Homo sapiens: one gene and its partner. The protein of the gene in region 1 purifies or fractionates together with the protein of each later gene. This does not show direct contact. Each region holds a gene or a part of one and is shown in the gene's direction. Other genes may lie near its edges.

What was found. The genes of interacting proteins can lie anywhere in the genome.
Region 2: the proteins of ALDH3A1 (region 1) and CASP14 purify together in Homo sapiens (affinity purification with mass spectrometry; 2 studies listed by BioGRID and IntAct, with this or other methods). This does not show direct contact.

The regions. Positions count from the first base shown.
Region 1 is NC_000017.11:19,745,274-19,752,334, reverse strand, and holds the start of ALDH3A1 (aldehyde dehydrogenase, dimeric NADP-preferring), read left to right. Parts: upstream 1-4,036; 5' UTR 4,037-4,076; intron 4,077-6,722; exon of another isoform or gene 6,723-7,061. UniProt on the Homo sapiens protein: ALDHs play a major role in the detoxification of alcohol-derived acetaldehyde. They are involved in the metabolism of corticosteroids, biogenic amines, neurotransmitters, and lipid peroxidation.
Region 2 is NC_000019.10:15,045,667-15,052,505, forward strand, and holds the start of CASP14 (caspase-14 precursor), read left to right. Parts: upstream 1-3,813; 5' UTR 3,814-3,979; intron 3,980-6,539; 5' UTR 6,540-6,585; coding exon 6,586-6,612; intron 6,613-6,839. UniProt on the Homo sapiens protein: Non-apoptotic caspase involved in epidermal differentiation. Is the predominant caspase in epidermal stratum corneum. Seems to play a role in keratinocyte differentiation and is required for cornification.

The DNA.
Region 1 (7,061 bases):
CCTGGTAACCACCGATCTATTCTCTATCTTCATGAGATCCACTTGTTTGGCTCCCACACATGAGGGAGAACATGTGGCATTTGTCTTCCTGAGTCATAACACTTTTAACCAACGGGGAGGTCCCTGAGACCCACTGCCTAATTTTCTCCTTTCTACTCTCTCTTTTTTTTTTGAGACAGGGTCTACCTGGTCACTCTGTCCCCCAGGCTGGAGTGCACTGGCATGATTACAGCTCACTGAAGCCTCGACCTCCTGGGCTCAAGTGATCCTCCCGCTCAGCCTCTCAAGTAGCTGGGTGCATGCCACCACGCCCAGCTAATTTTTTTTTTTTTTTTTTTTTGAGATGGAGTCTCGCTCTGCCCTCATCCAAGTTGGAGTGCAGTGGCGCAATCTTGGCTCACTGCAACCTCCACCTCCCAGGTTCAAGCGATTCTCCTGCCTCAGCCTCCCGAGTAGCTGGGATTACAGGCATGCACCACCACGGCCAGCTAATTTTTGTATTTTAGTAGAGATGGGGTTTTACCATGTTGGCCAGGCTGGTCTTGAACTCCTGAGCTCAAGTGATCTGCCCGCCTCAACCTCCCAAAGTGCTGGGATTACAGGCGTGAGCCACCGCACCCAGCCTCCTTCCTTTTTTTTATTTTTTGTAGAGATGAGTCTCTCTATGTTGCCCAGGCTCCTTCTACTCGTATAAAGAAAGTGGTTTCCCCTCCCAACAACTATATCTAATCTAAATGTTCCTTGAAATTTAAGCAAACTCGCTATTCATTCATTCATTCATTCATTCAACACTTTTTTTGCTAGCTTTGGGTGAATTTGCTGAAAATCGTCTTGCTAAATGATTGCTTTTCCATCAGAGGGATGGTTAGGTGTAGTGGGCTGCTTCCGTATCTTCAGAGGTCTCCCTTGTGCCAGGATATGGTGCTGAACAAAAGTTGAGATCTCTGCCTTTGTGGACATTCCAGTCCAAGGGGGAATAAGGAGAGACATAGTCACACAAACAAAGATATGAACGCAGGTTGTGACAGGTTCCTGGAAGTAAGGAAGGTTTTATTTGAGAGGTGAGAGAGGTCAGGGAAGCTGAGATCTGAACATGGATAAGAGTTAGTCTGGTGCAGAGTGGAAGAAAAAGTGTCCCAGGGAGCAAGAACAGCATGTGCAAAGGCCTTGTGGTAGGAAATTGCCTGGTTAAGTCAAGGAATGCCAGCAGACTGGAGTGCAGTGAGAATGGTGGGAAGTGGTGCGAAGTGAGGCTGGCAAGGCAGCCAGGAGCCAGGCCAGGCAGGGGCTCACAGGCCATGGGAGGAAGCTTCCTGACAGCAAGGGGGTGCCACCCAAGGATGTGAATCAGGGGAGAGACATGCTCAGGTCCTTATCGTCCGCATGTCTCTCTGGCAGCCACTTGGAGAAGGCAGCTGAGCCTGACTCAAGGAGAGTAGGTAGAGGGCAAGAACAGTGGCCTGGGAGAGAGAGAGTGAGTGACAGCCCAGGTGAGGATGAGGCATTGGGGATGGAGTATTAGGACTTGCAAAGATTAACTCATGCTTGCAATCCCAGCACTTTGGGAGGCTGAGGCGGGAAGATGAATTGAGCCCAGGAGTTTGAGACCAGCCTGGGCAACATAATGAGACCCATCTCTACAAAACATTTAAAAATTAGCCAGGCATGGTGGTGGGTTCCTGTAGTCACAAGGTGGGAGGATCGCTTGAGCACCGGAATTCAAAGCTGCAGTGAGCCGTGATGGCACCACTGCACTCCAGCCTGGGCAACAGAGCAACACCCTGTCTCAAAAAAAAAAAAAAAAAAAGAAAAAAGAAAATCTGAAAAGCAAGTATCTGCAAGTTTCTAGCACAACCCACACTCCCACACTTTTGCCACTACTGAAACTATAACCAAAACCCAAACACGCAAACAAGGATTTTGTTCTTCGTAGATTTGAACTGCTTTTAGGCTCCTTGCTCTGACGCTTCCACCACTACTGCTGCCACTTTTGATGACACCCACACCACCTAACCTTTCCAGGATGCCCTCGGCCCGCCAGGCACTGTTCTGGTCACTTCGTGTACTCAATGCTGTGTTGCTGGCTTTTGCTAGTTGCTTCCATGGTTCTCCCAGGGGAGGGCCGCTGCCACAAGAAGTCAGCTCCGAATGGCCTTCGGCCTTGCATTCTGCCCTCTACTCAAGATCCAAATTCCCAGGAGAGTCAGGGAGGCCTCATGGGGAGCCCACCCCAACCCATGGCTGGCCTGGAGAAGGCACCTGGTTGATCATCTCACCAAGTAGGAAGGGGTTGCCTGCAAAGATAATCAGCTGCTGCCACCAGAAAAGGGGAGAGGCTGGCACAGGCTCGGTCTTCTCCCCTCTCAGGAGGCACCCCACTTTGCACCTACCACCCAGTCCAGCCCCTGCACAGGTGCGAGGTCCTGCAGATGCTTCTTTCTGCTGTTTCTGGAATGTTTCCCATTCTGTTAGTCTTATTTGGGGGTCTCGTCATTTCTTGCCTGCATTGCTGGAAGCTGCAGCCTTTGGGCTAGACCTTTCTCACACTGTGCCCTGTCCAGGGGGTTCTCTAAAACAAAAAATAGCAGACATTTGTCTGTCTGATAATCTCCTCAGCGCCCTGCACCCCCACAGCCAGCCTGGCCCACAGGCCTCCGTGAGCCCCCGCCCCAGGAGAGTCATTCACCTCCACACCTCCTGCTGGCAACAGTGGACACATCGCACTTTTTCGTGACATAACGTTCCCAGCCTCTGTGCCTTTGCTTCTGCTCTTCCAGCCCCCTTGCTGTTCCTTGCCCAAATGCTTCTCACTCAGCTCAGATGATGTTCCCTCCCACGGACTCTCACCCCAGCCCCTCTAGCATCCTCTGCCTACCTGGTTACTACAGTGTTCACATTATTTTGAAATTTCCTGTTTATTTTGTCAGTCAATAAATATTTATTGAGCATCTACTATAAATGCTGTATGGAGGTTACAGCAGTGAACAAATCAAATTCTAGCTGTCAGGAGTTAAGGGACAGGTAGCAAACAAGATATAAACGCTCCAGAGAAAAAATAATGGAGGAAGACGACAGCATTGTGCTATTTTCCACAGCACATTGGAGCGTAGCCGTGTGGGTGGATGTAGGGGAAGGGGGCTCCAGGTGGAGAGAAGCAGGAGGGCCAGAGCACATCCTCAGGACTCGTAGGCCAGGACCGGAACCTTGTGTTTTCCTCGAATGAAATGGGAAGCAGGGACCCCATGCTGGTAAGCAGTCTGCCTGCAGGCGGGTGAGGGTGGCGGGAAGCGCCTGGTGAGAGGGGCCGAGAGTCTGTTCCACACCTGCCTCCTCCCCACAGCGTGGTGCAGAGCAGGAGCCCAGCGAACATTGATCAGACAGCGTGGGAACGGCTTTTCCAGACTCCTTCCTTCCCAAGCATCTCTGGTTTTCGGTGACCACACAGACCCTTGGCCCTCTTCTCAGCTATTCAACGAGAGAGCAGATTTATGGATTGGAGACCCCCATCAAAAGTCCCCAGCCTGTGGCTCCCCAGGGTTAGGATCTCTGACTCAATGGGGCCCTGTGCACACTGGGGGATGTGAAGGGCCCGGGGCAGCGGTGGCTGGGGGTGCGTTTCGGGGGAGCTGCATGCTCTCACTGTGGTTCGTGGCTGAGCCCTGCCGATCTTATGTAACCAGAGAACTCAGAGAACCGCATCTGGCAGCGGCAAGTCTGGAAAGCTGGAAGAGCTCCATGCCAGGCTGAATCAATCAGCAGCCCCCACGCCCAGGGCAAACATAGGCTCTTTTGAAGATTGGAGATGTGCCCTGCCCAAGCCTTCAGAAACATTCTCGCATTTCAGAAGTGAACAAAAGCAAACAGCCCGGGACCTAATCCCCAAAACCTGGGCTGTAGGGAGCAGAGGTCCAGAGGACGCCACACCCCACATTTGAATATTTTTTTTTCTTGTCACGCAAACTTCCTGGGCAGGAACTCCAAGGGCTCAATGGACGGGAAGCAGGGTCCTTAAATACGTCCCCTCTTGGCTCTTGCCGTTCCAGGAGCCCCAGTTACCGGGAGAGGCTGTGTCAAAGGTAATCCTCTTCCCTGCATTCCTTATTTTTTCTCTTGTCTAGGTGGAGTCTGCACTCAGAGCCGGGGCCCTAAGTGTCAAGAGTCCTACATCATCTCTCCAGGGGGTCCCTGCCTCTGGGACCATCATCTCTGGAGCATCCTCCTGGACCTCTGGCAGCTCTGCCATCCCCCAAACCAGGAGGCAGAGGTCCCAGGGATCCGCGGAGCAGGGACACCAAGGTGGCCGTGGAGTGAGAGGCCCTGATGGGCCGTCAGACTCCATGACTGGAAGGAAGGCAGCAGAGCCGAGTGCTAAAGGCATGAGCTGCTGACAGAGATGCATGTGGGTTCAAACCCTGACATGCCACCTGCTAACTGTGAGATCAGATACAGCATTAAACGTTTCTCAGTCTCCCTTTCCTCATCTGTAAAATGCACTCATAACCGTTTCTTCTTCATGGGCATCACTACAGAGCTTTTGTGAGGATGGAAGGCAATGAGGAGGGGAGGAGGTGTCACTGGGGGGCAAAGTCAACACTGGCACAGGTGAGAGGAGCGGGGTGCAGGAATGTGGGGTGTGAGGCGACGGGCTCTGGGGAGGCCCCCAGTGCATGCTGCAGCAGCTCCCATTTGGGTGCAGCTGCGACGTGATGGTGTCCACTCATCTCTGTGAAGTGGCACCTTTGTTAACCTGTCTCTCGGGGAAGTCCTGGGAAGGCCGTCCAGCCCAGAGACCACAGTTCCAAGTGGCGATGCTGGGGTGCAAGGCCAATCCCGTCCCACGCTCACCAGGCTCTTCCCACCTGGGCTGCCTGCCTTGGTTTGACCGTACAAGGCTCGGGAGAGAAGCGGGACCTTCTCTCCTGGGTTGTGGTCAGCAGGAGGGGCCTGGCCCATGGGACTGAGGAGGTCCCAGTGAGGGGGCTTTCCCAGCCTCCTATCAGAACATAGGGAGGGACCATGGAAGGGCCAGGCTTAGAGCACCCTCAATGCCAGCAGGTCCCTCCTCCCTGTGCAGAAAGCCTGGGATTAGGGGTCAGCCTATGGGGAGGGGAGGCAGAGGAAGGATTGGAAGCCACTCGCTGGAATGTAGGCAGGACCATATATCTATATACAATATAATTATATATTACATATGATATATAGGGTTTTTTAAAAAAATGGAAATACCCTATTTCTGCTGATGTTAAAAGTTATGCCGGGTCTGCAAGTGGGCTGAGTATCTCAGGAAGGGGAGTAAGGAACTGGTAACAGTGGCCCCTCTGTGGGGCAGCACCTGACAGCTGATGGAGCAGGGAGGAGGGAGGCAGACTTTTTTCTGTGCCCCTTTGCTATATTTTACATTTTGTTTCATGAGCATGTAGTGCCTATCTTAAAACGCACCAAAATTTAAAAAATACAAGCTCATTGCAAAAAGTCAAACATTGCATAAGAGGAAAACAGATCATCAATAATTCCACCCCCATCAGTTGTCTCATCGTGTCGGGGGCTACCGTTCTAGTCCTTTCTTGCATGTTAGAGCGTGCACGCCCACACACACACGCACACGCGCGCACACACACGCACATGCACACACACGCACGCACACACACACGCACATGCACACACACGCACACACACACATGCACACACACGCACACGCACACACACACACGCACACACACACATGCACACGCCTGGTACATCTGTTGTTCTGTAACTTGTTTTCTGTTTTTCTTTCTTTCTTTCTTTCTTTTTCTTTTTTTAGATGGAGTCTCGCTGAAAGTAATTATATTACTTACCCGAGGCCTTCAAATACCGCTTCCACTGACAGCCTCTTGACTTCTAGCAAATCTCACTAACCTTGCCTTACCTCCTACCACTAATCTAATAGGAGAACTCTGTGATTATGGCTCCATTCTCCCGGTCAAAGTGCTGGAGTGCAATGGCCCAATCTCGGCCCACTGCAACCTCCTCCTCTCAGCTTGGTTCAAGCAATTCTCCTGCCTCAGCCTCCCAAGTAGCTGGGACTACAGGTGCCTGCCACCACTCCCAGATAATTTTTGTATTTTTAGTAGAGACAGGGTTTCACCATGTTGGCCAGGCTGGTTTTGAACTTCTGACCTCAGGTGACCCGCCCACCTCAGCCTCCCAAAGTGTTTGCTAGGATTATAGGCGTGAGCCACCGCGCCCGGCCTGTAACCTGTTTTCTTTCTTATCCCCAGTGCCTGAGACACCCCTGGTGCAGAGAGAGCCCCTACAAACATGCTGAATAGCCTGCTCCACCTAATCCCTAAATACTGCACAGTAAACCCTTACGTGGGTGTGACAGGAGTCATTTAAACTGTCTCCTTTCTTTCGGATCTTTGGGATGTTTACAATACTTCCCTGTTATAGAAAACAGTGATGACTTTCTTATTCGTGAATGTTTAGGAAAGGCTGTAGGACCTTTTCGTCACAGAGAAGTATGTTTGAAAAACTTTTGCCACATATTGCCAAATTGCCCCCAGCAGGGCCATCCCGATTTGCCACTATACTTTCGTGTATTGGTAGCAGGAATCGCCTCCACACCTCTTTGTGGAAATCTGCAGCTCTCTGAATCCTTGGCGGGCATGGGCGTGCGTCTCCCAGGTGTGGCACGCGTGGTTTACACACCAAGCCTGGTTCAGCTCTGCCAAGAAACCAGCGCTTTTTAGAACAATGGCTTAGCCAGGAGGGTGGTGCTGGGTTTTTCTTTATCGGCTTGGGTGTGGAATCGCGGACTGCGCCCCTCCAATCTGATCTGGAGAGTGGCTGACTGCGTGTGCAGAGCTCTGGGGGTGTTGGTCTGGGATTGTGCCATCAGCTTTGCAAGCAAGTAAGGGAGCGGAAAAGGCCGGGAAAGGCCCTGCCGCGAGCACGCTGCCAAGAGCCCCCAGCAGCAGTTCGGCTTAGGACTCGGGTTGCGGCGGGTGTCACCTTCTCAGGGGCTAGCAAGGCAGCCAGGGCCCAGGCGTCTGAGTGAGGGGCGGGAGAGGAGGCGAGGC
Region 2 (6,839 bases), on another chromosome or scaffold:
GTTAGACATCTTCCAACACATCATTGCAAACACTCCGAGTCCTGACTGATTCCCCTAAGATCCAACTTTCTTAACGGACCAGACCCTGTCAAACAATGAGATTTCAAGGAGGAAGAAGACAGCAAAAGCATGCTTTAGCTAAAATTTTGGCATGGGGTAAGTGTAGGATGTTATGTCCAGTTTAATTTGGTGTTTTCCTGGGTTTTGTTTCTCTTTTAGTGAAAAGTGTGTACTTTTTATGCCATTGCAGAATTGATTCAATAGCACCACTGAATTGTCGGTCACGTGGATATGTTCAGTTTGAAAAAAATTATCAAGCTGCACATTTAAGAGTTGTGCACTAGGCCGGGTGCGGTGGCTCATGCCTGTAATCCCAGCACTTTGGGAGGCCAAGAGGGACAGATCACGAGGTCAGGAGTTCGAGACAGGCCTGACCAACATGGTGAAACCCCATCTCCACTAAAAATACAAAAATTGGCCAGGTGTGGTAGTGAGTGCCTGTAATCCCAGCAACTCGCGAGGCTGAGGCAGGAGAATGGCATGAACCCGGAAGGCAGAGGTTGCAGTGAGCCAAGATCACGCCACTGCACTCCAGCCTGGGTGACAGAGCGAGACTCCGTCTCAAAAAAAAAAAAAGAAAGAAAAAAAAAGAGTCGCGCACTTTTCTTCACATAGGTTATTCTCAATAGTTGTTTAAAGAACACAAAAAAATTGAGTTTGTTCCATATGTGCTAACATGGAAAGATGACCCAGACATAATTCGGTGAACAAGGCAAGTAACAGGACAATTTTGTAGAACGGGCCCACCTATGTAACTAACACTGCGAATGTGTGTAAGTCAATGCGGCAATAGGCACTGAAGGGAAATTGCTCAGTCTTGTGCCTGGGCTACCTGGAAGCAAAGGGAAGAATTGGAAGGATGAGAACAGGCCAGTTTTGCTAAAAAAAACATTTCTGTATTGCTAGAAAGTTGCACTACTAGGAATGGAATTAAAACATGCATCAGGCTAAGCGTGGTGGCTCACGCCTGTAATCCCAGCACTTTGGGAGGCCCAGGCAGGTGGATCGTTTTCAGCTCAGGAGTTTAACAACAGCTGGGCAACATGGCAAAACCCAGTTTCTACAAAAAACACACAAAAAATTAGCCTGGCATGGTGGTGCACGCCTGTAGTCCCAGCTACTGGGGAGGCTGCGGCTGGAGAATTGCTTGAGTCCGGGAAGCAGAGGTTGTAGTGAGTTGAGATCATACCATTGCACTCCAGCCTGGGCAACTTAGTGAGACCCTGTCTCAAAAAAAAATCCACATAAAACTTGTACATAAATATGTATAACAGCATCCTTCAAATAGCCAAAAGCCTAACACAACTGAAATGTTCCTCCACAGATGAATAAATAAACAAAATGAGGTATATCTGTACAATGGACTATTATTCAGTCAGAAAAAGGGATGAAGTTCTAATATATGCTACCATGTGGATGCTATCTTCCTCCTCCTTGAAATCTCATTGATTTATAGGATCTGGTCAGCTAAGAAGGCTGGATCTTAGGGGAAGGAATTGGAATGGGAGTGTCTGCAATGGTTTGCTGAAAGACATCTAACACTTGGCTCTCTAAAAACCAAAACAAAATGAAACAGGAGACAACAAACCAACATCCCTGCAATACTGTTCTTGAAAACATCATGCTGAATGAAAGAAGCCAGACACAAAAATCACATAGTGTATGATTCTATTTCTGTGAAATATCCAGAACAGGGAAACCTGCAGAGACAGAAACTCGGCTAGTGGTTGCCTAAGGCTGGGATGTATGGAGAGATTGGGAGTGATAGCTAAAGGGTACTGGGATTCTTTTGGGGGGTGATAAAAATGTTCTAAAATGAGCCAGGTGTGGTGGCCCGCGCCTGTAATCTCACACTTTGGGAGGCCGAGTGGGGAGGATCCCTTGAGGCCAGAAGTTCGAGACCAGCCTGGGCAACACAGCAAGACTTTGTCTCTACAAAAAATCTTGAGGAAAAAAGTAGCAAGGCATGTACGTGCACACCTGTAGTCCCAGCTGCCCAGGAGGCTGAGGTGGAAGGATCGAATAAGCCCAGGAGTTTTAAGCTGCAGTGAGCTGTGATCGCTCCACTGCACTCCAGCCTGGGTGACAGATCTTATCTCCGAAAAAAGAAAAAACAAAATGTTCCAAAATGAACTGACGCAATGGTTGCATCACTGTGAATATATTGAAACCCACTGGATTGCACACTTCAGGTGGGTGAATTGTATAATACGTAAATTATATCTCATTTAAGCTGTTGCTATCGAACCGAGTTTGTTCTTCCTCTGTGCAGCAAGCCAATCAATGTAATGACAGATTTTGCAGAAGAGGAAGAGTTCGTTCATGAGGCAATTAAGCGACGAGGTGGTAAAACAGGTCTCAAATTCTCCTCCCCAAAAATAGGGTTTGAGGGTGCTTATGGGATAGAAAACGGGGTGATCTAAAGTACGGAGAAAGGTGACTGGCAGGTAGGGAAGGTGAGGTAATCAGAATTTCTGAGCAAGCATGGTTGAGCTACATGGCTTTAGATAGGACATTTGTGCAAAAAATAGCATTTAGCATGATCTGAAGGTGGAGTTTACGGCCCTCTGATATCAGCTACCCACATAGGTGCAGTTGAAGGGTCAGTGATCTCCACTGGCTTAAACTAAACAAGAGCTGCCTCCTACCTAGTTCCTGAAAAACAACTTTAAGCACCCATTACTATAGTGTCCCACAGACAAAAATGTTATCTGTAAGGAAGCCAGTGGGAGTTTAGTTATGCATTATTTGGCTACGTGACTTGCTAGTGGCGCTTTTAAGATCAACTATAAGTAAGCAATTAAAAGTAAGTAAGCAATTAAACGCAAGGCAGATTAAGTCTGGAGGGCTTAATCAGGTTCGCCTTTGGTTTCACTATTAACATAAGAAATAAAATGAAACAAAATGGCTGAAAAATAATAAGAGGAGGAGGAAGAGAGGAATCATCATGATGCATCAGTTAAGGCAACTGGGCTGGAACATTTTAGGGGTTGTTTGTTTGTTTTTATATTTAAGACAGAGTCTTGCTCTGTCACCCAGGCTGGAGTGCAGAGGCACAATCTTAGCTCGCTGCAGCCTCAAACTCCTAGGCTCAAGCCAGCCTCCTACCTCAGCCTCCTGAGTAGCTAGGACTATAGGTATATGCCATCATTTTTATTATTATTATTATTTTAGTGACAGGGTCTCACTATGCCCCGGCTGGTCTCAAACTCCTCACCTCAAGCGATCCTCCTGCCTTGGCCTCCCAAAGCGCTGGGACTACAGACGTGACCCACCACACCTCACCCCTTATAGGGTTGAATGCCAACTGTGCCAATTGCTGACCTTGGGCAGTCATTTCACCTCTATGAGCCTCAGTTTCTCCATCTGCAAAATGGGAGCAAAAATACTGATCTGTCTAGACTCTTGAAGACTCGATGAGATAATAACTAAGTGAAGTCGGTGTTATCTACACAGTGGAAGGTGAGATGAATAAACTAGGCATAATGATGATGGTAATAACCAGATGGGCTGGCTATGGGATGGGGGTTGGGAGAGGTTGTGGCTGGGCTGGCACAGACATCTGACTCATTTAGACTCTCTGCCTAGGCCACCTTTGCCAGAGGGAGTCCCCTCAGCCTTGCGATCACTCATCCCATTGGCGTTGGCTCCATTTCCACACCACAGCTGTGTGCCAAGGGTGTGTCATGAGGTTTCTTGAGTGACAGAAAACTCACCGACAATAAAGGGCCAGGTGATTGTGCCACCCGATTCATAGACCAGGCTTCTCAGGAGAAACCCCGGGAGATTCCACACTGTCAGCCCCTTCTCCAAGATCAGTACGTGGGCCTGACTCCTCCTCGGTGCCCAGCTCAGTATTGGCAACTAGGAGAGTAGTGAGATTGAACTTGGCCTTGAGGAACAGCTGCCTCTAGAGTTGGTAAGTGATTTGGTGGATATTAGCCTCTCTCTCTCTCTCTCTCTCTCTCTCTCACACACACACACACACACACACACACACACACACGCACATACACACATACGCTCCCTCTCCCTTCATGAATTAATGCTCTGGCCAGTTTTGGCAGAATGGAAGAAATTTCCATCCATCCCCTCTTTCTTTTCATCTGTTCATTTTTTTCTTATTTGTTTACTCAGCAAATTCTCTCCAACACCACCTCTGTGCTCCCTGCCACACTGTTGGCCATGATGGAGACAGAGATAATGAAGTCAGGCTTTCAGTCCTGAAAACTGAGCTGCCAGTTCAGCCATGAGAGTAAGAATCAAAAACACTGCTGTAATTCAAGTAGGAGCAAGCAGAGCTGTGAGAGTCCAGAGAAGGAAGAGGAAAGTTCCAGGAGGTCAAGAGGGATCCTAAAACCTACCTGGGTCACCATTGCTGTTAAGCACCTAGAGCTCTCCCCAGGTCCTTTGCGGATGGGAAAATCGAGTCTCAGAGAGGAGAGTGAGATGCCGAAGGTCACACAGCTGGGAAGGGACTGAGGCAGGATTCGGTTCTGGCTCCAGGGCTATGCTCCTTCCACTTCCTCCCTCACAATCTTTGGCTCCTCTTTCGTCACAGCACTTGCTGTGTGTGTGTGTGAGTGTGTGTGTGTGAGAGAGAGAGAGAGAGAGAGAGATTTAATATTCATTTCTGTCACAGACTAGAGCTACAGAAGGACAGAAAGTCAGGGAGCATGTCTGTCTTACTTAATGGATTCTAAGTGCATAACACATAATAGATACCCAGAAAATATTTGCTGGGTAGGTGGGTGGGTGGGTGGATGGATTGATGGATGGATGGATGGATGGGTGGGTGGGTAGATGGATAAGTAAATAGGTGGATGGATAGATGGAAGATAGAGATGATGGATGAAGGAATGGATAGAAGGAGGGCTAGATGGAGGGATAGTTGGAAGATAGAATAGATGGAGGGATGGAAGACAGAGAGAGATAATGGATGAATGGATGGATGGATGGATGAATGAATGAGTGGTTGGATGAATAAGTGGATGGATAGATAGATGGATGGGTAGATAAATGGGTTGATGGAAGAATGAATGGGTATATGGGATGACTGATTAATAGATGGGTAGACAGACGGATGAATAGATGTGTGAGTGGGTGGATGGATGGATGGATGAGTGGATAGATAGGTAAGTGGAAAGATAAATTGGTGGATGGGTTGATGAATAAAAGGATGGATGTTAAATTGGATTGATGGATGACTAGATAGATGTGCGGGTGGAAGGATGGGTGGATGGGATGACTGATTAATAGATAAGTAGATGGACAGATGAATAGATGGAAGGGTGAGTGGGTGAATGGATGGATAGATGATGAATTAATGGATAGATGGTAGATGGATAGATGAATGAATTGATGGGTGACTGGATAGATAGATGGATAAAAACATAGATGAATGGATGGTTGATGGGGGAAGGCATAGCAGATATTATGCCACCAAAATTGTCAGAGAAGGATCTAGATAGAAAAAAAAAAAGCATTCCCGGTGGGGTGCAGTGGCTCACATCTATAATCCCAGCACTTTGGGAGGCTGAGGTGGGCAGATCATGAGGTCAGGAGATCAAGACCATCCTGGCTAACACAGTGAAATCCCGTCTCTACTAAAAATACAATAAAATTAGCCAGGCATGGTGGCGCATACCTGTAGTCCCAGCTACTCGGGAGGCTGAGGCAGGATCATCACTTGAACCCAGGAGGCAGAGGTTGCAGTGAGCCGAGATCATGCCACTGCACCCCAGACAGCCTGGGTGACAGAGTGAGATTCTGTCTCAAAAAAAAAAAAAAAAAAAGCAAAAAGCATTCCCTACTGAGGAGAAAGTGTAGGAAAAGGCAAAGAGATGGGGAAATGCCAAGAGTATGACAAAAGTCTGTCTGTGCAGCCAGAGAAGAGAACAGGACTCAGAGATGAGAATGGAGAATGTGGACAGACATTCAGACTCAAGGAAGAGCAAGGGAGGTGGATTGACCCCTTCGTATTGGAGACCCAGTGAGATAATATCAAAGTTGCATTCCCCACTTCGATGACATTCTCCTTTTAAACACTCCTCCAAGGCATCTCTTTGAGATGGCTTCCCCAGCCCGTCATCTCCTAGGTAGAAGAGGCAAACACATGGGTCACTTGCCCTGCTCCTCATTCCAGGGCTTTCAGGGGAAGTTCAGTCCACCAGAAGCTGGTGAATGACCCACGGGAGACACAGGAAGTTTTTGGGGGCGGAGTGGGGGACATTGTGGGGTAGGCTCAGCAGTTCTGAAGAAGACATCCAGAAATGGAAGACATCGTGAAATTGTCATTCTAGGGGTGATATATTACTACTTCATGGATTATCATCTATTGCCCAGATCTGTCCACAGACCAAATCCCCACCACTTGAGTGCTATTTGGTCTCAAAAATCCAGATACATAAGCCAGTTTGTCCCCTGAGCCCCTCGGCCTCCCTTTAGAGAACTTTAACCTATCTTCTCTTGACTCCAAGGATCAGACAAGGGTGCTGAGAGCCGGGACTCACAACCAAAGGAGAAATGAGCAATCCGCGGTCTTTGGAAGAGGTAGGCTGGGTGCAGGTTGAGGGGAGGGTGATCATCTGGGGAGAAGGAAGGTGAGGATTTTAATGTTTTGGAAAGAGTGGAGGGACTGAAAAAATCATGATCTGAACTCAGAGCTAGGAGGTACTTTGTAGTCAATCAAACAGCAAAAAAAGACTCAGAGATGGAACCGAAGTTGGGTTGGGTGGTGGGGGCAGTCAAACACAGCTACCTCTGTCTCCAAAGATCAA